Homo sapiens: one gene and its partners. The protein of the gene in region 1 purifies or fractionates together with the protein of each later gene. This does not show direct contact. Each region holds a gene or a part of one and is shown in the gene's direction. Other genes may lie near its edges. The genes, in order: REC8, SMC1B, CAMK2D, SMC1A, SKP2, CLPB and ISY1.

Region 1 (2,838 bases):
CCCAGATGGGTACCCTTATGCAAGGTATGAGCTGCTCAAGTGCATGGAGACCCCGCACAAGCCCTCTCCAGGTTCCTCTAGGGGCGGGTGTGGGGTCCTGTTAGCAGTCCACCAGAATGACAGGAAAAGGAGTAATGGGCAGCCTTGCCCCTACCTGCCCTCCCCACTCAACAGAGGAGGCCCCCAGTCCCCCCACCTCCTCGCCGCCGCCGTCGTCGCCGGTTACTGTTCTGGGACAAGGAGACTCAGATCTCCCCGGAGAAATTCCAGGAACAACTGCAAACCAGAGCCCACTGCTGGGAATGTGTGAGTGCAGCCCAGGCTTTGCCGGGGAAGGGAGGGAGGCAGGGATGACCAGGGGCACATGCAGGCTGAGCCTTCCAAACTCCTCAGGTGGGTGGGGGGAGGATTGGGAACTTGATGAAAAATCTCCTCCATTCTCCAGAAAATGCAGGCGATGTGGGTTTGCACATATACAACTCTTCATGCTCCTTTAGTGACCCACCTGTCATACCCATGGGCACCAGGTTAAAAAGTCCTTCTTTTAGCAATGAGCAGGGCAGGCAGGGTCATGAGCGCAAAAGCTGGGGAAGTCCAGAAGCCCCAGAACAGTGCATTGCAAAGAGGCAAAGGGGCCCTGAGGAGTGGCTGCTTTATAATGGGGCTTCTGACCTTCCCCCACTACACAGCCTATGGTGCAGCCGCCCGAGAGGACCATCAGAGGCCCTGCGGAGTTGTTCAGAACCCCAACTCTCTGTAAGAATGGTGGGGGTTGGGCACGAAGTATCCTCAAAACCAATTCCTCATTCCTGGTGCTCCTCACGCCTCAAACCCCGTGCCTACTACCCTCTTGTCCACAGCTGGCTGGCTACCCCCTGAACTACTGGGTCTCTGGACCCATTGTGCCCAGCCACCCCCAAAAGCCCTCAGGCGAGAGCTGCCTGAGGAGGCAGCCGCTGAGGAGGAAAGGAGAAAGATTGAAGTTCCAAGTGAGATTGAGGTAACTGCACCACCTGTTTACTGCATCGCCCCAGTGCCAGGGTCTGCCTGACCAGCTGGCTGCCCTCTCCTGCTATGAGAGCCAACAGCACAGGCTCACTGGCCTTGTGCCTTCTGAGGCCCAAGTCCCAGATGCTTGGGGTCTTAGTTCTACTTCTCCCATCCCCAGGTCCCGAGGGAGGCCCTGGAGCCCAGTGTTCCCCTTATGGTGTCTTTAGGTAAGCACCTAGAGAAGAGGCGCAGTGGGACCACACCCTAACCACTGTCCCAGGAAACTAGTATCCCAACTGCTGAAGCTGTTTTATGAGTGAAGGCGTGTGTGTGTGACATAAGGAAGCACGGACTGGTCCTCCTCAGCTCTCCCACCTATGTGCTTTTAACAAGTCACCGCACGGCTCTGCCATCTACTTACACCAGGTGGCCACAAGGCCCTAACTGCCACCCAAGCAGACACCCACTAGCGCCTTTCCTCCCCCAACAGAGATCTCCCTAGAGGCAGCTGAAGAGGAGAAGTCCCGCATCAGCCTCATCCCACCAGAAGAACGGTGGTAAGCGGCCAGGCTCCGTGGGAGCCAGGGCCCACAGCCCTTGGCCAGGTGGTGGAAACAGCTGCTGGGATGGGTATGCCCCTTGTCACTGTCACAGCTGCCACCTTCCCTACTCTCTCATGTCCTCCTAGGGCCTGGCCTGAGGTGGAGGCGCCAGAAGCTCCTGCATTGCCCGTGGTGCCTGAACTCCCTGAGGTGCCCATGGAGATGCCTTTGGTGCTGCCCCCAGAGCTCGAGCTGCTCTCACTGGAAGCAGTGCACAGGTACCAGGGAGGTGGCACCTTGATGGGGTGGACCCGGGCTGAAGCCTCTGCTAATGGTTCTTGATCCCTATAGGGCAGTGGCACTGGAGCTGCAGGCTAACAGGGAGCCCGACTTCAGCAGCCTGGTGTCACCTCTCAGCCCCCGCAGGATGGCTGCCCGGGTCTTCTACCTGCTCCTGGGTGAGTGTATGCATGTGTGTGTGTGTATGTGGGGCAGGGACACAGAGACCAGAGGCCCGTACAGGGACTCCCCCGACCTGCCCTCTCCTCGCCTCTTGACCAGTGCTCTCAGCGCAACAGATTCTTCACGTGAAACAAGAAAAGCCATATGGTCGCCTCCTGATCCAGCCGGGGCCCAGATTCCACTGAGGTTAGAGTCCATTTACAAAGCTGCCAGGAAACCGGCCACTTCTAGTAAACCACGTCGTGCCTCACTGGGTCCTGCTTACCTCATTTCTGAATGTGCATTTCCAGCCTTCTTGCTCTCAGAGCTATTGTTCAAGCAGAAAACAAGCTGCTTTTATTACAGTATGATGTCATGACTCATTTGTAACAGATCCAGCCTCAGGGACAGCCCTGTAAGGCAGCAAGTGGGGCTGGCTCCAAATGGGTATGAGTCTCAGAATCTTTGGTAAGGCAGAACTGAACTGGGCTGAGAGGTGGTCTTAAGGCCTGGGCAGGCTCTATTCTCTCTGGACTGGCTGCAGCCTGCAGTCTAGGAGAGGCCCAGTACAGCCTGGAGCTCCTGAGCCTTGTCAACAGGCAGTGAGCCCAGAGCTGCTTGAAAGCTGTCGGTGTGCTGTTTGGCCAGGAACGTCAGGAGCAGCAACAGTGCGGCCTTGGTGTCTGGGTGGAGAGGGAGGGAGAAAGGTCGGGGCTCCTAAAGCCTCGCTGCCCCAGGCTCTCTGAGCCCTGCCACTCCCAGCCTCCCGCAAGCCCCTGCCTATGACTCCTACCCTCACCTGGTGGGATCTTGTTGTCAGCCAGAATGAGGCTGCAGATACGCAGAAGCTCGGGAGCCACATCTA
Region 2 (3,500 bases), on another chromosome or scaffold:
CGCCTGTCTTTCCAGCCACTCAGGAGGCTGACACAGAAGGATCTCTTGGGCCCAGGAGGTCGAGGCTACAGTGAGCTGTGATCGTGCCATTGCATTCCAGCCTGGGTGAGAGAGCAAAACTCTGTTTCAAACAAACAAACAAACAAACAGGATCAGGGATAGTCTGTCTTATTTTCTGCTATATTCTCAATGCATAGACCAGCACCTGGCTCATAGTAGATACTCAATACATATTTGAAGAAGTAAATGGAAAGTGGATGTTTCTTATTAGTGATGTTTCTCTGTGTCTTCATGTTTTCTAATATGTATACATGTCCTTGGTTTTGTTAGTGGAAAGGAGTGGCAGCAGTGGAAGTCAGACTATAATAATCACAATATACTGAACTGCAAAATTTAAACATTTTAAGGACAGTTAGAACGAAACAACTTCCTAATTGTTTTTTACAACATCCTAGTGGATAGCCTGTTACTTTGAATACTTCCAATATTGATTAGGAGCTCCTCTTGAGGTAGCCTGTTCCTTTATTTCTTTAATAGCACAAATGTTAAGGAAATTATTATTTTTCACATATAATTTAGCACTGTAAGAGTCCTGTTTTATCGGTAGAAAAACTACTTCCTGTAGTAGGAATTTTTCCTGGAGTCATTGAATTTAAAGTTACTAGCACCTTATAAGTCATATCACACTCTTCTTTCAGTTTACAAAGGAGGAAGCTGATGCCAGAAATACTGATTGAGTTGTGAAACTCACAGGTCCAGACAAAAGGGACCCAGGCTAATGCATGCCACTTCTTTGTTCTCATCATCATACCACTGAGCGCAAGAACACAAAATCATTTGCTGGTGTATTGGGTTATTTAAAAAGTATATTCAGAAACCCTCGCCAAATTATGCTACTTTTGGCAAGAACATTATGTCCTAATAAATAAACATTCATTAGTTAATTTGTTGGTATAGTAGTTGAGTTTATGAAAGGCCAACTTAAATACACTCCCTTTTAACTGCTGTTGAATTATACTCTTTTATAGGCAGAACGTTACCAGAGTCTCCTTGAAGAACTGAAAATGAACAAGATACAACTGCAGCTTTTTCAACTATACCATAATGAGAAAAAGATTCATCTCCTGAACACCAAGTTAGAGCATGTGAATAGGGATTTGAGTGTCAAAAGAGAGTCTTTGTCTCATCATGAAAACATAGTTAAAGCCAGGAAAAAGGAACATGGAATGCTAACTAGACAACTACAACAAACAGAAAAAGAATTAAAGTGAGTTTTTAAAAGTAGATATTAACAGTTGGGTTATATGTAGCTTGATAGAGGGAATAATATAAGTGACACTTTGAAAATTGATTTTAAAAATAAGCTTTTTACTTTGGAATACTTTTAGATATACAGAAAAATTATAAAGATAGTATAGGCCAGGTGTGGTGGCTCATGCCTGTAATCCCAGCACTTTGGGAGGCTGAGGCAGGTGGATCACGAGGTAAGGAGATCGAGACCATCCTGGCTAACACGGTGAAACCCCGTCTCTACTAAAAATACAAAAAATTAGCTGGGCATGGTGGCAGGCACCTGTAGTCCCACCTACTCGGGAGGCTGAGGCAGGAGAATGGCATGAACCTGGGAGGTGGAGCTTGCAGTGAGCCGAGATCACGCCACTACACTCCAGCCTGGGCAACAGCGTGAGACTCCATCTCAAAAAAAAAAAAGGTGGTGTAGAATGGTCCTGAAGTGGTGGTGTTTGGGGTAATACCCGAGGTTCATTGCCTCACAGCAAGGAAATCAAGGATGCAGACACACAAGGAGTGAGGTTAAGAGTGGGTTTAATAGGTGAAAGAAAGAGAAAAGCTTTCTCATGCAGAGAGAGGGGCTCCCAATTGGGTCTTCTGGTCCACAGTGAAGTACAGGCGGTTTTATAGATGAGCTTGAGGAGGCGGTGTCTGATTTAGGGCATGAAGGGTTGTTCAGATCAGGTATTCCATTTGCATAGCACGTGAAGAACCGCTTAGGACTAGATGTGCCATTTGCATAGTGCACAAAGAAGCTGGCCATCCCACCCTAATTTTTTATTATGCAGATTCTGTACCTGGCTGGCGCCATGTTTGCCAGCTTTTCTACTGTACACGTGGTGACAAAGAAAAGGGAAGATGGAGCCTTCATGTTGAACATAGCTGGCTTCTGAGTACCCCTTTTCTATTGGCTCAGCTGCCGGCATTCACTCGTGTAAGCTTCCAGCTTGCTTATGTACCCCATTTGTAGCCTAATTTTTCAGGCTCCTCTTTGTTAGAAAAGAAATGATTTTGGGGCTGCTTTTCGTTAAAAGGGAAGCTCTGCTGAGGACTCTCTTAACCTTCACTATCTGCCTAAATAATTTATTTTTAGCCCCTGTATCAGTCCCATATTCCCAACACTCAGTTTCTCCTATTATTAATATCTTACATTATTATGATACATTGTCAGAATTAATAAACTAATATTGATACATTAACTAAAGTCCATACTTTATACATATTTTCTCAGCTTTTGCCTAATGTCCTTTTTATGATCCAGAATACCATATTACATTTAGTTATATGTCTCCTTAGGCACCTTTTAGCTGTGACAGTTCTTGTTTTTGATGAACTTGACAATTTTGAGGAATATTGGTCAGTTTTTTTATAGAACATCTTTCAATCCGGATTTGTCTGATGGTTTTCACATAATTAGACTGAAGATACAGACTGTGGGGAGGAAGCCCACAGAAGTAAAATGTCCTTCTCATTATATTCTATCAGAGTGTCAGTGTATTATATATGTTACATGACATTTATCATGTACTATATCATGTGTCATATCAACATGGTATCACTGTTGATGTTGACCTTGATCACCTGACTGAAGTAGTTTTTGTCATGTTTCTCCTCTGTGAGGTTATTTTTTCTCCCTTTTCATACTATAATCTTTGAGAGGAAGTCACTATGCTTAGCCCACACTTAAGGAGTAAGGAGAGTTATGTTTTACCTTGAGGGCAAAGTATCTACATGATTTTTTTGGAATTCTGCACAGATTTGTCTCTACTTAATTATTTTAAAATTAAATTAATTGTTATTTGTTTACATCAGTATAGATTTATGGATATTTTACATTTAGAGTTATAATCCAGTATTACATTGTTGATTTTGTTGCTTAGATTGTTCCTGCTGTGGCCACTGAGAACTCTTTGAGTTGGCTCCTGTGTCCCTTTGAAATATTCTCATTACTGTGATTTTTTTTTGGAGCTCTTCCTTACTTTCTAGAAGATAAGTATCTTCTACTGTCATCTTGTATAAGCCAGTCCAAGCATCAGCTTGCCCCAGCTTGTATGAGCCTGCCCCAGGCTCTCCAAGGAACCCTGGTTCCTTTTATCGGAGAACAGTATTAGGAACCAACATCTAGGTGGTAGGTGTGTTCGTTGCTACTGGAGTGTCCTTGCTTCTAGGCTTTCTCAGCTGTTGGAACTAGGAAATACCTGTGTATACTA
Region 3 (3,500 bases), on another chromosome or scaffold:
TTAGGCCTCATCTATAAAATCTAAATGTTTTGTGTGTGTGTGTGTGTGTGTGTGTGTGTGTGTGTATCCCTAAGTAACCTTTTTTGATGTTGTAAAAGGGATGTTAAAAACTAATTCTTGCTACTTTTCTTTTATTTTTGGCTTCCAGGCAGTCAAGAAAGTACTGTAATTTCTCAACTTCATGGTTACTTGTCTTGAATTGGAAGTAGAACTGAGACTATGTAGATGGATTAAGTTCTGATTATACATTATTGATTTGGCAAATTGGAACAATTTGGACAAATTAAAATTTGAAGGTTTCTTGGCAAGAACAACATTTTAAGAAAAAAATTAGTAAATCATTTTTATATTTGTACATAGAATCTCCACAACTCTTCAGTTATGGACCCAGAAGTGGCATGTGTCATCCTTATTATTTTGTATCCTTTACTTACGTTTAGTTGTATTTACATTCTTCTATAGGTCTTGATATTAAACATTCATTTTCTTCTTTCATTGAATGAAAGCATTACTGCTCTTCAGAACTAGTTAGGAGACACAAATAATAAAAAAAAAAAGTATATCCACACTTCCAGGAAATAATAGAATTCTTTTCTGTATTTCATTAAATGAAGAAAATAAAGAAAGTGGTTGTCAGGTGCCATACTGTGATATTAATAACTAGTGTAAACCTCTACCTGATTGTGTGAGAACTTTGTTTAGACAATTAGATTAATACTTCTCATTTCCATTGAAATGTTGAATAAACTGAATATAAAAATTAAAATTTAGCAATATGTCACCTTTTATGGATCTTTTTAATGGTAATAATCACGAATTACTAGAAATCTTACATGTACTGGGCTTTTCTTGGGCATCTAACTTTTTTGTTAACTAGAATTTTAATTTATTTTTAAAGTCTTCCTTGGGCTTATACTGAGGTTGACTCATAGTATTTCTAGGGCTGGATTGGTATATTTTTTAACATCAGTCTTCCCCATTTATTAGGGTGTAATGTATGCAGTGTTTTAATAAATCATTGGCAATTAATGATTATATAGAGGCTGTGTTAAAGATTTTAAGTTACAATAGTATTTCTAGTAAACTACACTGCAATGCATTAAATGGAGTATTAGCAATATTTTAACTGTAAAACATATCTTTATATTTCAAATCACTTTATAGATCATTAAGCATATTCACATGTCTTTATGTGTTTATTTAATAAATATTAAATGATTTCAGTGGACAGTGTTAGGAAAAATAAAGGCTATCTACCTAAATAAACATAATAGAAGACATGAATGGCATTACAATTCAAGCATGAATAAAGTACTATGGGCTCTTAAAGGAGGACAAGATTATTTCTGCCCAGGGAGATAAAGAAAGCCTTTCATATAGTATTGATTTAAAGAAATTTTGAAAGCTATAATGTAGATGGGGCTTAAGTACCACCCCCGCCCCCACCCAACCGAAAAAAAAAGTCTAAATAAATGATTTGGGGAAGTTGCTCAAAGTAGTTTAAATATCTGATTATAACAAAATGTTATGTTATTCATATGGTAAATTTGTTGTAATTATCAGTATACAGTTATTTTTAGAATAAAATTATTTTAAATGACGTAGGCTGTTTCTTAAGTGACAAAATTCCTCTAATTCCAGTTGAGAGATTTAGCAATACTTAAGGAGAAATCATAGACCTTTTATCTGCCATAACTTCTCTTACTCTAGCATAGGGAAATTGGTAGGTTTGAAGAGGAGAGAGGGCAGCTTTTTTGTTAAGTTTGTTTGGTTTTGTTTTTAAATCTCTTAGCTATCATTGTAATTACACACAATGACACAATGACATCACTGATTTTTTTAGTTACCTGAGCCCCTTTTCTGGTGTTACAGTCTCATTTTAACTCCTTAGAACTATGTTTATTACTACCAAAATCAATAATGCCATCTTCATCATTAATAATAATTTAGAAAAATATAAATATTAATAGCCATTATTTGAAGAGCCCCTTCTATGAGACAATAAGTATATATTTACAAGATACTTTGTTTTATTTTATTTAATCCACACTGCAGCCTCCTAGAACAATATTATGTCCATTTTAAAAAAGAATACTGAGGCTCTTGTATAAGGCCTCAAAATTAGTAAGTGATAAGAGTCAGGATTTCAATCTGGTTTTCTCTGACTGTAAATTCTGACTCTTTCCACTGTCACCTCCTGTTGATTGCTATTAGAGAGGACTTATCTTAATCTGTCTGTATTTACCTGTGTGTGCTTAACTGATCTTACAAACTTCAGAGTCCTTCATACAAAGCACTATGCCTTACATTTTATCTTCCCATTGCAGTGTGGGGGATTGAGTATTTCTTTGGGAAAATACATTTAGAGTTCCAACCTGTGAGAGAAGATAGTCTTTTAAATGCTACTATAACAAGATCAAAGTGAAGTTTCAGACAGTCCCTCCATGCTGTCTTCTGGAAGGACAACAATATAGTGAAAAATGTTATTATAAAATGGTAGGAAAATGGTTAAAGAGGAGTTCAGTATTTTGGTAAACTTAATTCATTAACTGATTAAAAATATCTCACTATACAGTAAGTTTCTAGGATTACTTCTTCTAAATGATTCAGTTGTCACTGCAAACTAAAACTCAGCCCTTAACCGAAGCCCAGAGAAACCTACTCAGAAAGCTGTTCTACTCTTCTGGTTCATCTTGTTTAACCAGTGAACAATGGAAGACAAATTTTTGTTGTTTTGTAGTTTCCTTTTGAACAACATTGTTGTATGTAGCAAATTCTTACAAAAATGTGGCAATTTAAAGAAAAATATAAAATTGTCAAGTTCTATATTTGTTGAAAAAATAACTTAGGTGCAGCAAGTAGTATAAAGGTACACAAAGTATTGTGATATAATATTTATATACAGTTAATTGTTTTACAATAGGTTTCCTGTTTTCCTTCAGTTACATTGATTACATAGGAATGTTAAAAGTTTTATTGCATAAAATTTGATATATATAATTATATCATATATATTTAATTTTATAACAATAAGCACCCAATAAGCCTCCACTCAATAACTAGAACATTCTCCCTACTTTTGAAGCTACCTGTGTGCTTTTTGTTGATCCCTATCCTTTGTATCTCCCCGAGAGCTAATCACCATCCCTAACTTTTTTAGGAGAGAAACCTCTTTTTATTTCTTCATACCCTGGGGTTTTTTAATTAACTGGCTGATCTCAGTGGGCCAGTCATTCATGGAATAAATATATGTAGCCATTTTCTAGGTAAATTGTATTTTATTTTATTTTGTGTGGTATATGTGTAAACTCATGGAATAAAATACATTACTTCTCATATATTAGTATATAATTTTACCCTCTTAAATATAGGCAATGCTTAATTTATTTGGAATTTGTTTAGTAACAGGAAATTATTTTCTTCCTATGTCTGATAAAATTTTTTTTAAAATTATTTATTTATTTATTTTGAGACAGAGTCTCGCTCTGTCGCCCAAGCTG
Region 4 (4,006 bases), on another chromosome or scaffold:
ACTGAGGCCCAAAAAGGTTTGAACCCAGGTCTTCCAAGTCATTCAAGTGCTTTCTCCACTGTACAGGTGGTTATCAACCTTGGCTGCGCATCAGAATCGTTTGTAAAGCTTTTTCTTTTTCCTTTTTAAAAAGTAAAGCAATATATACACAGGTAAAAAAATAAAATAGTACAGAAGGGCTTATAATGAGAAGCAGCAGTTCCCTGCTTGCACCCCCACATCCAAAGGATGTGGAGCTCTTTAAAAATAAATTGCTCTGGTCCCACCTCTGGAAATCTGATTCAGCCAGCATGGATAATAACCCAGATAACTAACCCCTACCTCACAGGATAAAAAGGATTACATGAGATGCCTTAGGCTAAGGCCCTGGCACACAGGAACACATGTGCTACAAAGGAGCTTTGGGGACTTAAGTCCTGAGGATCCAGGAGGTGAGGTGACTTGTCCAAGATTCCACTGGTTTAGTGGCAGAGCCTAGACTTCCACTCGGATCTATTTAGTGCTTGCCCCCTGCTCTCTCCTGTCGTGCCCCACCACCTCCTGGCATCACAGGGCAACCGTTGTCAAGGCTATGCTCACGGGAGGCTGGGCACCACAGTGTTTCCAAGAGCAAGCTGGATCCGAGTAGATTCCCTAGGGCTTGTTGGAGGAACTAGTTTGACTCCCTTATACTGTGGACGCAGTAGCCTTGCTGTAGGGAGTTGAAGAGTACTCCACAACAGTATCTTAAGTTTAACTGGGCACTTCCCTCTGGAAATCACAGTGTTGTGCACCAGGAACACAAAGATGAGTCAAATCTTTATCCTGCCTTTGAGGAGCTCACTGTTTAGTTGGGGAAACCATTTGTAAAACAGCCATTAACCATACAGTGTGATCAACACTGACAGGAGCACAGGAAAAACATCTAGCTTATGTGAAGATTCAGAGAAGGCATCCTGTAGTCTAGGTGGTGATACCTGAACTGAGTCTTGAGGGACGGGTAGGAATTAGCCAGTTGAGGAAGTAGAAGGAATTTCCAGATATTGGAAACAGTATGCATGAAGACATGAAGGCAAGAAACAGCAAAACAAATACTGAAGCATGAAGATTCCTGGGGTGGGGGGAAAGCAGCAAGAAAAGGTAGAGAGGAACCAGATTGGAAGAGGGTCGTAAATGCATGGCTACAGAATTCAGATTTGTTTTGTAGGACAGTGTGGTTCCCAAACTGGCTGTATACCACAAACAGGTACGGCATTCTGGGCCCCGGCCCCTAAAACATTCATTAAGTCTGGGGTGAAGATTTGGAATCTTGAATGCTTATAAAGGTTACCACATGACTAGGGTACAGCCAGATTTGGAAACCATAGCTTGAAGGCAGTGAGGGAGCCATGAAATGGTTTTTAATAGGGGGACTCCAGATCAGATGTGAACTTAACCTGTTTCTGGCTGGCTAGCCAACCAGCATGGAAAACAGATTAGGTTAGATGTTCATGCTGTATGTGCCCGTGCCTGTAGCTTCCCTGTTAATCAGCTTCTTACACTACTATATTTGCTTATTTTGTCTCTGAATAAGCTTTAGGCACCACAAGGGTGGGCCTGGGGATATTTTGCTTACCAGTATAGCCCCTGCAAAAAAGCACAGTGCCTGACACAAAACAGGCACCCAGTAAAGTTTTTGAATGAATGAATGCATGAGTGAATCCATTTGTGAGAGAGCGAATGGAGATGACAAGATTAGCTAGGAGACTGGAAAAAGACCAGGAGGCCTGCACTAGGGCAAAGGCCAGTAGGAATAGATTGGAGGTGTTAAGGTGTGAACTGTTAAGGTAAGATGATAACTTAATGACTGATTATTGGATGTGGAGGGTGACTGAGAGGATAGAATGAGTACCCATGAATAGCCATGATTCCTACCCTGTCCCAGTCATCTCTTTCCTTATCCATCTCTGAAACAATCTGCTTACATCCTCCTCAGCAACTGGAATTCCTCAAGTTAGTTAGACATTCTGTGTGCTGTGTGGTCTCTCACTGCCCCCCCACTCCCCACCCCTCCACAAGCCATTGATTCATTCATCCAGTTCAATAAATCTTGGCTAAGCACCTCCAGTGTGCAGTAAGGCTCTTCCAAGCCAGGACTCTGACTCCCTCTTTCCTACCTCAAGAGATGTTTTTGAGGGCTTTCCCAGGTAAGAGTCACATCTCTTATACAATAACTTATAGTGAGATACCCAGAATGTCAGACTTGTAAGGGAAGACTGCCCAAACCCCTTCTGAGGTCCTCAGAGGGGAATTAACTTCCTAAGGTCCGACTGCTAGGAAGTGTTGGAGCCAGAAATGGAAGCTAGGTTTCCTTTCTATGTCATCTCTGGAGTCTTGATCTTGATCTATCCCATTGTAGATCAGGACAGGCAGAGGTGGTCAGGGAGAAGGTGGGACTTAGGTTGAACCTTGAAGGTCAATGTATTGGACAGGTCAAACAAGATGGTTGCCAATTACACTGCCCCCTTCTGGAAACCCTTAGCAAACCTGCCATGCTTGCAGTCCCTTCTAAGGGGTTTCCTTAGCATAAGTTGCCATGCTCTGTACCATGTGACCTCACAATCCTGGCCACAGATAGCTAGATGTGGATAGTGTCTGGTTCAAGGGCAACCAATCTCTAGGCTGGCCAGTGGCCTGTTAGCTGGACTGGCATAAGGACTTCACCTTACAGGGGTGGCATGTATCAAATGGCAAATGTATGAAACAACCAGATCTTTCAGGGAGGCAGAATGTGAGCTATTCAGAAGAAGTGAACGTTAATTAGAATTTAATGAGGCATTAGTGGTGGTGGATGAGGGGTGGCCAGAAACTAAACAGCAAAAGCAAAGAGAAAGCTGCAGAAACCATAAGTAAGCAGAGGTCATGAGACATTTGTATAATGAGATCACGGAGCCACAGGGTGGCAGAAGCCATGAAGCAGCAAGGCAACAATGGGCTAGAAGCCATGAAGCAATAGGAGCCACGAGGAACAGAAACCGTGAGACAAAACTGACTATGAGATCCACAAAGCAGCAGAAGGCTTGAATAGATAAGATCATGAGACAGTAGAAGCGATGAGACTGCAAGAACCACAAGGTAGCCAGAACCATGTGGCAACATGGCAACAGGAATGGAAGAGGCAGCAGGAGCTACAATGCAGAAAAGCCATGGATTAATAGGAACTGAAGCGCCGGGAGCCATGAAGCTGCAGGACCCATGAGGCAGAAAAAGCCATGGGCTAGCATCGAGGGGGGCAGAAAGAAGTTAGTCAGTAGCAGTAGGAGGAGTATAAATACAGCCAGAAAGGAGTTGAGTCACCAATTTGGGAAGCACTAGAGAAGGGAGCAACAGATGCCTGCAGCTGAGGGGGTGACAAGATAAGCCAGGCTCTAGAGCTGCTTTGGATCATGAACCATTTTCAAGTTTCTGTTCTTCCATGAGGCTGCCTGTGTAGCTGTTCTTGTCTTCCTTATTTCCCTGTGAATGCTTTAATAAATCCCCATCACTAACCTGTGTGTGTCTTTGTTCCTTGGAATCTAAAAGGTTAACACTGGTGTGCAGTTTAGATAACAGGAAAGCAGGGCAAGAGGTCTTCCTGGTGGGGTTGAAGCAAGACACAGAGGTGGGAATTCACTCATCCTTTCCTGCCTCACTGGCATGGGCACCTTTCATTCACTTACTTATTTTTATCATTCATTCATCCACTCATTTATTTATTACCTTATATATGCACTAACTCACAACTTCACTCACTTATTCATTAATGCATTAATGTAAGCATTTACCAGTTCATTTGCTCTTTCCTGTATTCACTCATGCATCATTTTTCCATCCATTTGTTCAGCAGGCATATGTTAAATTCCTGTCATGTGTCAGGCCCTGTGCTAGGTTCTGGGAATTAGATATACATGCCCTCCAGGAATTCTTGGCTTAATTGGGAACTCAGATAAGTAAGTGGTTAAGCACACTAAGTGTGGAAGATGATATAATGGACGTCTAGGTGAGGCAA
Region 5 (3,500 bases), on another chromosome or scaffold:
CTTTTTGAACTTACGTGAGGGCCTGTCATTCCTGTGCTCAGAATCTTCTAGTGGTGCCTCATAGAATTCAGCGTCAAAGCCAAAGGCTTTATCATGACCTAGGAAGCCTGCATGACCTGGCTGCTCTCTGATTTTTCTACCCACCTACCTCTGCGCTCTACACTGGCCTCCTTGCTATGCCTCAAACACACATGCTGTTCCTTGGATCTAGAACACGTACACCAGATACTCACAGGGCTCACTCCCTCACTTTGTTCAAGCCTTTGCTTAGTGATCGTCATCTCAGTATGGCCTTCCCTGACCACCATGTTCAAACTTAATAACATCTGCTCTGAACTCTCTGTTCTCTCCCTTGCCCTGTTTAATTTTTCTGCACAGCACAGATCAATTTTACTATATCATATAATGTACTTATTTTTTGATGTGTGATTATCTGTTCCGCATTACTGGAATGAAGTCCCACGAAGGTAGTGTTTTGGGTCTGATTTACTACTCCTTCCCAACACCTAAAATGATACCTGGCACCATAGTAGGAGCTCAGTAAATATTTGTTGAATTAAGAAATGACAATACCCTTTTGTATTGCTCTTTTAGGTAAACTGTGCCTTTTGTAAACCTGAAAGAAAGCATATTAGTCTGTTCTCATGTTGTTAATAAAGACATACCCAAGACTGGGTAATTCATAAAGGAAAGAGGTTTAATTGACTCACAGTTCAGCCTGGCTGGGGAGGCCTCAGGAAACGTACAAGCTTGGTGGAAGGGGAAGCAAACGTCCTTCTCCACATGGCGGCATCAAGTGCAGAGCAAAGGGGTCGGGGAAGCCACTTGTAAAACCATAAGATCTTGTGGGAACTCACTTATCACCAGAACAGCATCAAATTACAGGGGCGGTTATCACCAGGTAACCGTCCCCATGATTTGATTACCTCCCACTGGGTCCCTCCCGCAACACATGGGGATTATGGGAACTACAATTCAAGATGAGATTTGGGTGGGGACACAGCCAACCATAGCAGAAAGGGAAGAAGATTTATTTGCCTTTTAAATAAGGTCACTACTGAGTCCACATCAGAGAGAAACAAGGCCTTCCTTTGCACCCAGAAGCACCACAATATCTTATTGATGTCAATGAATTGACAATGTCATTGAATGACATTTGAGAGGGTGGGACTTGCTCTGTACCACTCTTCATGCCACAGCCTCCGATTGGCTGGCTAGAGCTGAAGGGAAGAATAGGAAAAGTGTTCTGGGTTTCTCTTTTTGATTTGCTGAGAGAGTGTGGTGGTCACTTCAGGGTACATAGATGATGGAATGGGGAATTTAACACGAATTAAATTACTCATCACCACAATTATTTTTCTGTTCAACAGAAATGATTTTTCAAACAAAAATAATTGTGAGGATGAGTAATTTAATTTGTGCTAAATTCCTCATTTAAGCTAAATGTTGTATATTCTTTATGTGTTTGAAAAGACTCAGTAGACTTGATAGGGTGAAAGAATGGTGATGGCAAACACTTGTTTTCCCTCCAAAGGTGTTTCATGGGACTCCCTTCCGGATGAGCTGCTCTTGGGAATCTTTTCCTGTCTGTGCCTCCCTGAGCTGCTAAAGGTCTCTGGTGTTTGTAAGAGGTGGTATCGCCTAGCGTAAGTATTTTTCACCCCTTTGGCAAACGTAGGGGAGGAAGAGGAGAGGAAGGTTATTTATTCGTTTTGGTCTGATGAAACTAAAAACCAAGAAAAATAGAGCAGCGCAAAGCAAACTAGGTATCTTCATATTTTTATTAATCAGTGTCCTCATTTCACAGTGGAAGAGGAATTTCCTGGGAGGGATAAACTTACCAATGTCTGGAAACCTCTTTGCCCTGTATTCAGTGCAGCATGTGTTTATGGGATGCTGACTGTAGGCCAGGCGGTGTGCTTTAAGTGCGGAGAGAGTTACAGAGGTGCATGCAGACAGCGGTTCCTCACGCCGCTGGGCTGAGCAGTGAGCACAATAGGGAGAGGGAACACAGGCTTGGTGTTAGACCCGAGTGCACACCCAGCCTCTGCTGCTTACGCTCTGCATGACCTGAGTGAGTTAGTTGACACTGCTGAGCCTCAGTCTCCCCATATGTAAATGGGGATAATGGTTATGAGGAGGAAACCACTGGTTATGAGGATGAAATGTGAAGATGCTGGTGTAATGCCTGACTCACAGACATGTTCCACACAGAGTAGCCATTGGTGGGGTTGTGCTCTTTTTTTGGCAACACTTTTCAAGTGTGGAAGGTGAGTTGCATGTGGAAAGACTTGGTGAGCTGGAAAGGCAATAACAGGCCTGGAGCAAGAAAAAGGCTATGTTTATCAACTGGAACTTTTTACTATCTTCATGCCTTCTCATCCCTATCCTACCTCCTGGTCATTCTTTGCTTTGTGTTTAAAGGCCATCCGTCTGGCTTCTCCCTCCACATACTTAGAACTCCCTGTGTGAGATAGCAGGAGCCTCTTGCCTTCAAGGGCGTGCTGCTATTTACAGGTGTGGGTTGTTTGCTTAGAAGAGCCGCAGAGAGGGTTGCACACCTGGAATGCTGGTGCAAGTGGCAGGCAAGTTTCACTTACCCTCACCGCACTCAACCCCACTTTGGTTTTCTTTTTCTGCCAGCTATGCATTTATCCTCTTCTTGCAGAGTCTGTTAATCCCATTTTAAAATTTTATTGTATATATTTAAGGTATACAGCATGATATTTTGTTATAAGTATGTGAAATGGCTGCTATCATTAACATATTCATTATCTCACATAGTTACCTATTTTTTGTGGCAAAAGCACCTAAAATTTACTCTTTTAGCAAACATTCTGACTACAATACAGTATTATCGACTCTAGTTCTCCTGTTGTATACTATATCTTGGGATGTGTTCATCCTGCATATCTGTGGCTTTGTATTCTTTGACCTACATCTCCCTTAGAGTCTGTTAAACTTCATCTCAGTTGTCATAAAAGTAATTACTGACATTTATTAAGCACTTGCTTTGTGACAGGTGCAGTGTTTGCAATTTAATCCTCCATATGATTTTAAGTGATGGTGTTTGTGTCATCTCAGCTTCAGAGGTGAGGAAACTGCAGGGTCAGGAATAGTAGGTTGAGAGATAAGTGGAAAGGCAGGAATCTAAAGTTTGGCTAACTCCACGGTCTTAACCATCATACCATATCTAGTTATGCTTGGCTTAGGGTTCAGGTAGCTCCCAAATTCATTTTTCTGTGAGGTGTTCATCTTCCTAAAAAATGTATATTATTTGGAAAGAAAATGAATTGTTCCAAAACTTCTCCCAGGTTGTTGTTATTGAATGCTGGTTAAGCTATAGTTTGCCTTCTTGCAAGAGGAAACATCAAGCATGAGATTCAAGACAACCAGAGCAGTGCTGATCTGGTGTCAATACCAATACCTTGGAGGCCAAAATGGATTTCTGTCTGGGCAAGAAAGATACAAAAGTGTGCCACTCTCTTAAGGATATCTTA
Region 6 (3,500 bases), on another chromosome or scaffold:
GGTAAAGGGAGCCTGACCATCCTTGCTAGAAGGAAACTTTCTGGAATTCCTACAGTAGGTCCTTATTCAGCCTTTCTGTACCCTAGACTCTGTACAGGTGGTTCATGCTGCTCTTTATTTCTTCTTCAATGTCCTGGGCTCTTAGCTCTGCCCAACAGACCTGCCTATAGCAGGACAGAATCCCATACTCATTTATTTCTTTGAATTTACACATACAGTCATGCCTTGCTTAACAATAGGGACACATTCTGAGTAGTGCAATTTCATCACAGTGTGAACATCATAGAGTATACTTACCCAAACCTAAATGGTAATAGCCTACCACACACCTAATCTATATGGTATAGCCTGTTGCTCCTAGGCTAGGAATCTGTATAGCACGTTATTGCCCTGAATACTGTAGGCAATTGTAACATAATGGTAAGTATTTATGTATCTAGACATACCTAAATACAGAAAAGGTCATTTGTTGCACTATGATGTTGAGACAGTTACAACGTCACAAGAGGATAGGAATTTTTCAGCTTCATTATAATCTTATAAGACCACCTCATACATGCAGTCTATCGTTAACAAACACATCATTGTGTAGCGCATGACTGTAGGTTACACATGGTTGGGTCACTGTGTATATGATTGATATGGTCAATAATATCAGTATTTAGAGCAAAACTCAGACCTCGTAAATAATGTCGTGCTTTACCCTTCTTCCCCACTTGACCTCTCTGGGGCTCTGTACTGTGTCTGCCTCTACTTGACCTCCCCCAGCTCCTGTCCTTAGCCCCAGAGTCTTGGGAAAGTTCTGGATAGTGAAGGGCAGCAGCCTAATGCTCTTCTGCTCCCAGGGGGAGGTATTCGATCCTCCTCTTTAAGGACACCCTGGAATCTTCAGTCCATGGGCCCTGGATGTGGGTCCTCCACAGATGGCCCTCTGCCATCTGTATTCATTATCCTCTGCTTACACCTTTCAAAGCTCTAGTGCTGCTTTCCTTACAGAGCCTTCTTGGATTCCTCCCAGCTGGGTGTGATCTCATCTTCCTTTGCCTCTTCCCCCCACTCTGATCCTACACCTGCCTTCTGGTCTGGGAGGGTATGAGGGTGATCTAGAAAGGACCATGGCAGCTTGTCACAGGAGGGAGCTCCTTTTGTGGAAGAGAAGCTGGAGGTCAGGTTGGAGAAGTAGAGCTGAATGCCACTTGCCACACTGTTCTTTATATGAAGAAGTCTGTGGGCTATATTTCATCTGAAACTGCTGGATTGTGCACCTCCTGAAGGGCAGGGACAAGGTTGTGTTCTCTACCGTCTTTTACCCTGTTCCACAGCACAGCGGCACTTACTTGTTTTTTGTGACTCTTTCTTTGCTTTTTATTGACTTTTCAGTGTACCTGAAGTAAGCAGTCCAGAGGCTTTCACACTCCCCTTGGCTATATCAGAGGGAGGCCAGGTCTCTTCTCTTTCCTCCCTCCCTCGCTCCCTCCCTCCCTCCCTTCCTGTGTGACATCCATTTCCTCCCTTCTCCCCTGAGGCACTTAAGTTCATCCATCTCTGGTTCCTCAGAAGTGGAAGCCTGGCCTCCTACCTGTCAGCAGTGTGAGCAGGTGGTCCTGCTCCTGGGCTTACCCCAAACTTGAGCCTGAGGAACTGCTCACCCGAAACCTAGGGCACAAGGCAGACTAGAGGCACATCTGTCCAGGCTCAGGCCAAGCCATGTGAGGAGTTGTCAGGACTGGGACTGGGAAAAGTGAGGCCTCCTGTTCTCCCGGTGGAGATCACATTTCCTTCAGCACAAAGTGGGTGAAAGACAACACCCCTACCCATCTCCCTTCTCCCAGCAGGGGGCTAGGCCTCTGCTGAGTGCTTACCTCAGTTGTTCATCAGCCCAAGCAGTCTCTAATAAAGGAAGCCTGGCAAGATCAGTCTTGGGCCTCAGACTGCCTGCCCTTTTTCTCCAGGATTTATTTATTCATTTGACAAACAGCATCTGCCATATCCTGAGTCCTCTGCTTGGCACAGGGAACACTTAAGCAGTCATGGTTCCTGCCCATGATGACAGAGTCGGGGTAAACTGTGGCAATAGGGTGGTCAGTGCTGTGAGACAGGAAACTACAGGGGCTGCAGGAGACCAGAGGACAAACAGCCTGGAGGATCTGAGAAAGACTTCCAGAGGAAATGGCACCTGATCATAGACTTAAAATATCAGTTGGACTTTGTAAATAGAAGGGGAAGCCATTCCAGGCAAAAAGGGCAGCATATGTGGTAGCATAAGGCAAGGAGCAGCCTGGGGGGTATGCAGAGGGGAAGTCACTTGCTGTTCGGTGTTGCTGGATCACAGTCTGAGGCCAGGAGGGACTGGAGACAGGTAGCGACCTGGTCGTGGAGAACATTGATTGACTCTCCGTTTGTCCCTCAGTCGCCCATCTGTCCAGCCTGTGCTTTGTGCCTAGCCCTGAGCTGAATTTGTGGCAACAAAATGAGGAAGGAGAAACAGTCCCTGCCCTAGAGGAGCTCGTGTGCCCTCTGGTGAGGAAGAAGGACATGAGTCAAACATTGAGAGCCAGTGAAACAAGGAACAAATTACCTACCTTCCAACTAACATGAAGATGATAATAACTAACCCCACAGAGTGGCAGAGTCATTATTACTAATAACAAAATGATTAATTCATTCAGCCAATACTTACGAGTGCATATTCAGAGCTAGGCATTGGGCTGAATGTGGCAGTTAACAGTAACGAACAAGATTGGCACAGTCCCTGCCCTCTTGGCACAGTCTAACTAGGAGTCAGATAACTAATTATGCAACTGTAAAATTAGTAGAAAGAGTTTACTGGGGCCAAGTTTGAGGACTGCAACCCAAGAGTCTAGATTCAAGTTGCCATAAATATATGCTCCAGATTAGCAACAGTTGCAAGTGTGTTTTTAAAGGGAAAAACAAGAGACACTTTTTTGTTGTTTTTGAGACAGAATCTCAGTCCGTCACCCAAGCTGGAGTGCAGTGGCACGATCTCGGCTCACTGCAACCTGCGCCTCTTGAGTTCAAGTGATATTCATACGTCAGCTTCCCGAGTAGCTGGAATTAGAGGTGCATGCCACCACACCTGGCTAAGTTTTTTTTTGTGTTTTTTTTTGTTTTGTTTTGTTTTTTTTGAGACGGAGTCTCATTCTGTCCCCCAGGTTGGAGTGCGGTGGTGCGATCTCGGCTCACTGCAAACTCCGCCACCCGGGTTCATGCCATTCTCCTGCCTCAGCCTCCCGAGTAGCTGGGACTACAGGTGCCCGCCAACGCGCCCGGCTAATTTTTTGTATTTTACAAAGAGACAGGGTTTCACCATGTTAGCCAGGATGGTCTGACCTCGTGATCCGCCCGCCTCGGCCTCCCAAAGTGCTGGGATTACAGGCGTGAGCCACCACGCCCAGGGTATTTTTGTTTTTTTTTTAAGTAGAAATGGGGTTTCACCATGTTGGCTAGACTGATCTCGAACCCCTGACCTCAAGTGATCT
Region 7 (3,500 bases), on another chromosome or scaffold:
CCGCCTCAAATAAATAAATAAATAATAACTAACTAACTAACTAACAGATCCATTTTCTCTTTTTTTCTTCCCAATAAGAAAGTTGGCCCTAAAATGCTGGATCATGAAGGAAAAGAAGTCCCAGGAAACCGAGGTTACAAGTACTTTGGAGCAGCAAAAGATTTGCCTGGTGTTAGAGAGCTGTTTGAAAAAGAACGTAAGTAAGTTTGTGACAGTTTTAGCCTTTCATTGGTAATAATCATAAGAGTAGATATGCTATATGCTAACTGCTCTTACTTTTTTTTCTTAGTTGCATAACAGCCTTATAGTGTAGGAATTATTGTTCCCAGATTTTAACTGAGAATTCTTAAGAACTGGGATAGAATCATAGGCCCATGCCATACAATTGGGGCTGGAAAGTGTGCCCAGGATTGGCTGGTGCAGGATTCTGCCTTTGGCAGGTGCTAATCTGTCAGTCTGGACAAGGAGTTTCCCTATTTGAAGTTTCCCAGAACGATTGGGGCAGGCTCTGAAGTTCATTGAATCAGGTCATGTTTCAGTTACTTATTAGTTGAACAAATGATAACCAAAGAACAAATACAATCTTGGGCCAAACCCTAAATGTAAAAATGGAGAAAAGTGAGGCCCAGCACTGTGGCTCATGCCTGTAATCCCAGCACTTTGGGAGGCTGAGGTGGGCGGATCACCTGAGGTAGGGAGTTAGAGACCAGCTTGACCAACATGGAGAAACCCCGTCTCCACTAAACATACAAAATTAGCTGGGCATGGTGGTGCATGCCTGTACTCCCAGCTACTCAGGAGACTGAGACAGGAGAATTGCTTGAATCTGAGGGGTGGAGGTTGCGGTGAGCCGAGATCGTGCCATTGCACTCCAGCCTGGACAGCAAGAGCGAAACTCCATCTCAAAAAAAAAAAAGGAGAAAAGTGGAGCTACTTTTGTGTGAATCCAAATAGGGCACACCCACCTTTCCTCCTTCTTTCAGCCAAACCTCCTGAATATAATTTGAAACTGTTAGTCTGGAGTTTTAGTCGGTTTTGATTTTGTGTTTTAGAAAGGTAGTCAACACTTCATAGGAAAAAGTATGAGAGGCAGAGAAGAATGATGCCAGTATTTTCACCATTATTAGCATTTTGTTATATCTCCTTCTAGTTGGCTTTTCTATTTTAAAAAAAATATAGTTCTATTTTTATTAAATGCTGCTTATTTTAAAATTCATTATTCCACAGCTAGTTTTGCATAGGCCACTACCATCCCTTAAAAATAATTCAGAGTTTAAATATTGTGCCATTAATTATGAAGGAATATATTTTTTACTACAGAGGAGTTATAGCCAGGCGCAGTGGCTCATGCCTGTAATCCCAGCACTTTGGGAGCCTGAGGCGGGAGAATCACAAGGTCAGGAGTTCGAGACCAGCCTGGCCAACATGGTGAAACCCTGTCTCTACTAAAAATACAAAAAAAATTAGCTGGGCATATGGCAGGCACCTGTAATCCCAGCTACTCAGGAGGCTGAGGCAGGAGAATCACTTGAACCTGGGAGGCAGAGGTTGCAGTGAGCCGAGATCGTCCCACTGCGCTCCAGCCTGGGCAGCAGAGCAGGACTCCATCTCAAACAAAAAAAAGTTATAAAATACAGAAAATCAGAAAAAAACCACTCACATTTTCACACCTCATATGTGATGATTGTTAATACATTAGGGCATTGTTCCCTCCAGTTTCTTTCTTTCTTTCTTTCTTTTTTTTTTTTTGAGATGGAGTCTTGCTCTGTTGCGCAGGCTGGAGTGTAGTTGTGCAATCTCGGCTCACTGCAACCTCTGCCTCCCGGGTTCAAGTAATTCTCCTGCCTCAGCCTCCCAAGTAGCTGGGACTACAGGCGCATGCCACCATGCCCAGCTAATTTGTATCTTTTTTTTGTTTTTGAGATGGAGTCTCGCTCTGTCACCAAGGCTGGAGTACAGTGGCCCAATCTTGGCTCACTGCAAGCTCCACCTCCTGGGTTCACACCATTCTCCTGCCTCAGCCTCCTGAGTAGCTGGGACTACAGGCATCTGCCACCATGCCCAGCTAATTTTATTTTTTTTTTGTATTTTTAGTAGAGACGGGGTTTCACCGTGTTAGCCAGGATGGTCTCGATCTCCTGACCTCGTGATCCACCTGCCTCAGCTTCCCAAAGTGCTGGGATTACAGGCGTGAGCCACCGTGACCAGTACTAATTTGTATTTTTAGTAGAGACAGGGTTTCACTGTGTTGGTGCCAGGGTGGTCTCGAGCTCTTTTTTTTTTGAGATGGAGTTTTGCTCTGTTGCCCAGGCTGGAGTACAGTGACGCAATCTCGGCTTACTGCTGCAAGCTCTGCCTCCCAGGTTCACGCCATTCTCCTGCCTCAGGCTCCTGAGTAGCTGGTACTATAGGCGCCCGCCACCATGCCCGGCAAAGTTTTTGTGTTTTTTTAGTAGAGACGGGGTTTCACCATGTTAACCAGGATGGTCTCAATCTCCTGACCTTGTGATCCGCCCGCCTTGGTCTCCCAAAATGCTGGGATTACAGGCGTGAGCCACTGTGCCCAGTACTAATTTGTATTTTTAGTGGAGACAGGGTTTCCCTATGTTGGCCAGGGTGGTCTCGAGTTTTTTTTTTTTTTTTTTTTTTGACATGGAGTCTTGCTGTGTTGCCCAGGCTGGAGTGCAGTGATGCGATCTCGGCACACTGCTGTAAGCTCTGCCTCCCGGGTTTACGCCATTCTCCTGCCTCAGCCTCCCGAGTAGCTGGGACTATAGGTGACCGCCACCACGCCCGGCAAAGTTTTTGTATTTTTTTAGTAGAGACGGGGTTTCACCGTGTTAGCCAGGATGGTCTCTATCTCCTGACCTCGTGATCCGCCCGCCTCGGCCTCCCAAAGTGCTGGGATAACATCCCACTGCTCCCGGCCGGTCTCAAACGCTTGATGTCATGATCTGCCCACCTCGGCCTCCCAAAGCGCTAGGATTACAGGAGTGAGCCACCTCGCCTGGCTGTTCCTTCCAGTTTCTAAAGGGTTGTGTTGGGGTGGCTCCTATATTGTGATTATGCTCTATATGTTAGGTTTTTTGCATTTACATTTTTCTAAATATATTTTTGCTTATTCCAGTGATAGAGTTTTGGGTTTTTAAATTTATTTTTCCTTTTTTGTCATCTATTGAAAAGATTTTTGTTTTAGAAAGAAAATGCATAAGTGAATTTTACTGGTTATAATTCAAATAGCACAGATAGAGTTAAAGTCCTCTTACCTCTACACTCATCCCAGTGCCCCTCCTAGAGGTAACTGATAACCATTATTATCTGTTTGGTATGTTCCTTTCCGGCCTTAAAAATTTTTTTATTTTTTTAGGCCAGGTGCGGTGGCTCATGCCTGTAATCCCAGCACTTTGGGAGGCTGAGGCGGGCGGATCACAAGGTCAGGAGATCAAGACCATCCTGGCTAACATGGTGAAACCCCGTCTCTGCTAAAAAAAAATACAAAA

What was found.
Region 2: the proteins of REC8 (region 1) and SMC1B purify together in Homo sapiens (affinity purification with western blotting, with the first as the bait; one study listed by BioGRID). This does not show direct contact.
Region 3: the proteins of REC8 (region 1) and CAMK2D purify together in Homo sapiens (co-immunoprecipitation; one large-scale study listed by IntAct). This does not show direct contact.
Region 4: the proteins of REC8 (region 1) and SMC1A purify together in Homo sapiens (affinity purification with mass spectrometry; 2 studies listed by BioGRID and IntAct, with this or other methods). This does not show direct contact.
Region 5: the proteins of REC8 (region 1) and SKP2 purify together in Homo sapiens (affinity purification with mass spectrometry; one large-scale study listed by BioGRID and IntAct). This does not show direct contact.
Region 6: the proteins of REC8 (region 1) and CLPB purify together in Homo sapiens (affinity purification with mass spectrometry; one large-scale study listed by BioGRID and IntAct). This does not show direct contact.
Region 7: the proteins of REC8 (region 1) and ISY1 purify together in Homo sapiens (affinity purification with mass spectrometry, with the first as the bait; one large-scale study listed by BioGRID). This does not show direct contact.

What each region holds. Positions count from the first base shown.
Region 1 is NC_000014.9:24,177,917-24,180,754, forward strand, and holds the end of REC8 (meiotic recombination protein REC8 homolog), read left to right. Parts: coding exon of another isoform or gene 1-24; exon of another isoform or gene 25-174; coding exon 175-306; intron 307-689; coding exon 690-756; intron 757-860; coding exon 861-1,000; intron 1,001-1,168; coding exon 1,169-1,217; intron 1,218-1,480; coding exon 1,481-1,547; intron 1,548-1,678; coding exon 1,679-1,810; intron 1,811-1,883; coding exon 1,884-1,990; coding exon of another isoform or gene 1,991-2,093; coding exon 2,094-2,179; downstream 2,180-2,838. Other genes in the region: IPO4 (importin-4), read right to left, coding at 2,526-2,656, 2,773-2,838. UniProt on the Homo sapiens protein: Required during meiosis for separation of sister chromatids and homologous chromosomes.
Region 2 is NC_000022.11:45,400,100-45,403,599, reverse strand, and holds part of SMC1B (structural maintenance of chromosomes protein 1B), read left to right. Parts: intron 1-1,028; coding exon 1,029-1,267; intron 1,268-3,500. UniProt on the Homo sapiens protein: Meiosis-specific component of cohesin complex. Required for the maintenance of meiotic cohesion, but not, or only to a minor extent, for its establishment. Contributes to axial element (AE) formation and the organization of chromatin loops along the AE.
Region 3 is NC_000004.12:113,751,739-113,755,238, reverse strand, and holds part of CAMK2D (calcium/calmodulin-dependent protein kinase type II subunit delta), read left to right. Parts: intron 1-148; coding exon of another isoform or gene 149-198; exon of another isoform or gene 199-766; intron 767-3,500. UniProt on the Homo sapiens protein: Calcium/calmodulin-dependent protein kinase involved in the regulation of Ca(2+) homeostatis and excitation-contraction coupling (ECC) in heart by targeting ion channels, transporters and accessory proteins involved in Ca(2+) influx into the myocyte, Ca(2+) release from the sarcoplasmic reticulum (SR), SR Ca(2+) uptake and Na(+) and K(+) channel transport.
Region 4 is NC_000023.11:53,373,649-53,377,654, reverse strand, and holds the end of SMC1A (structural maintenance of chromosomes protein 1A), read left to right. Parts: 3' UTR 1-3,506; downstream 3,507-4,006. UniProt on the Homo sapiens protein: Involved in chromosome cohesion during cell cycle and in DNA repair. Central component of cohesin complex. The cohesin complex is required for the cohesion of sister chromatids after DNA replication.
Region 5 is NC_000005.10:36,162,111-36,165,610, forward strand, and holds part of SKP2 (S-phase kinase-associated protein 2), read left to right. Parts: intron 1-1,534; coding exon 1,535-1,646; intron 1,647-3,500. UniProt on the Homo sapiens protein: Substrate recognition component of a SCF (SKP1-CUL1-F-box protein) E3 ubiquitin-protein ligase complex which mediates the ubiquitination and subsequent proteasomal degradation of target proteins involved in cell cycle progression, signal transduction and transcription.
Region 6 is NC_000011.10:72,424,532-72,428,031, reverse strand, and holds part of CLPB (mitochondrial disaggregase), read left to right. Parts: intron 1-3,500. UniProt on the Homo sapiens protein: Functions as a regulatory ATPase and participates in secretion/protein trafficking process. Has ATP-dependent protein disaggregase activity and is required to maintain the solubility of key mitochondrial proteins.
Region 7 is NC_000003.12:129,137,064-129,140,563, reverse strand, and holds part of ISY1 (pre-mRNA-splicing factor ISY1 homolog), read left to right. Parts: intron 1-78; coding exon 79-196; intron 197-3,367; coding exon of another isoform or gene 3,368-3,433; intron 3,434-3,500. Other genes in the region: ISY1-RAB43 protein, read left to right, coding at 79-196. UniProt on the Homo sapiens protein: Component of the spliceosome C complex required for the selective processing of microRNAs during embryonic stem cell differentiation. Required for the biogenesis of all miRNAs from the pri-miR-17-92 primary transcript except miR-92a.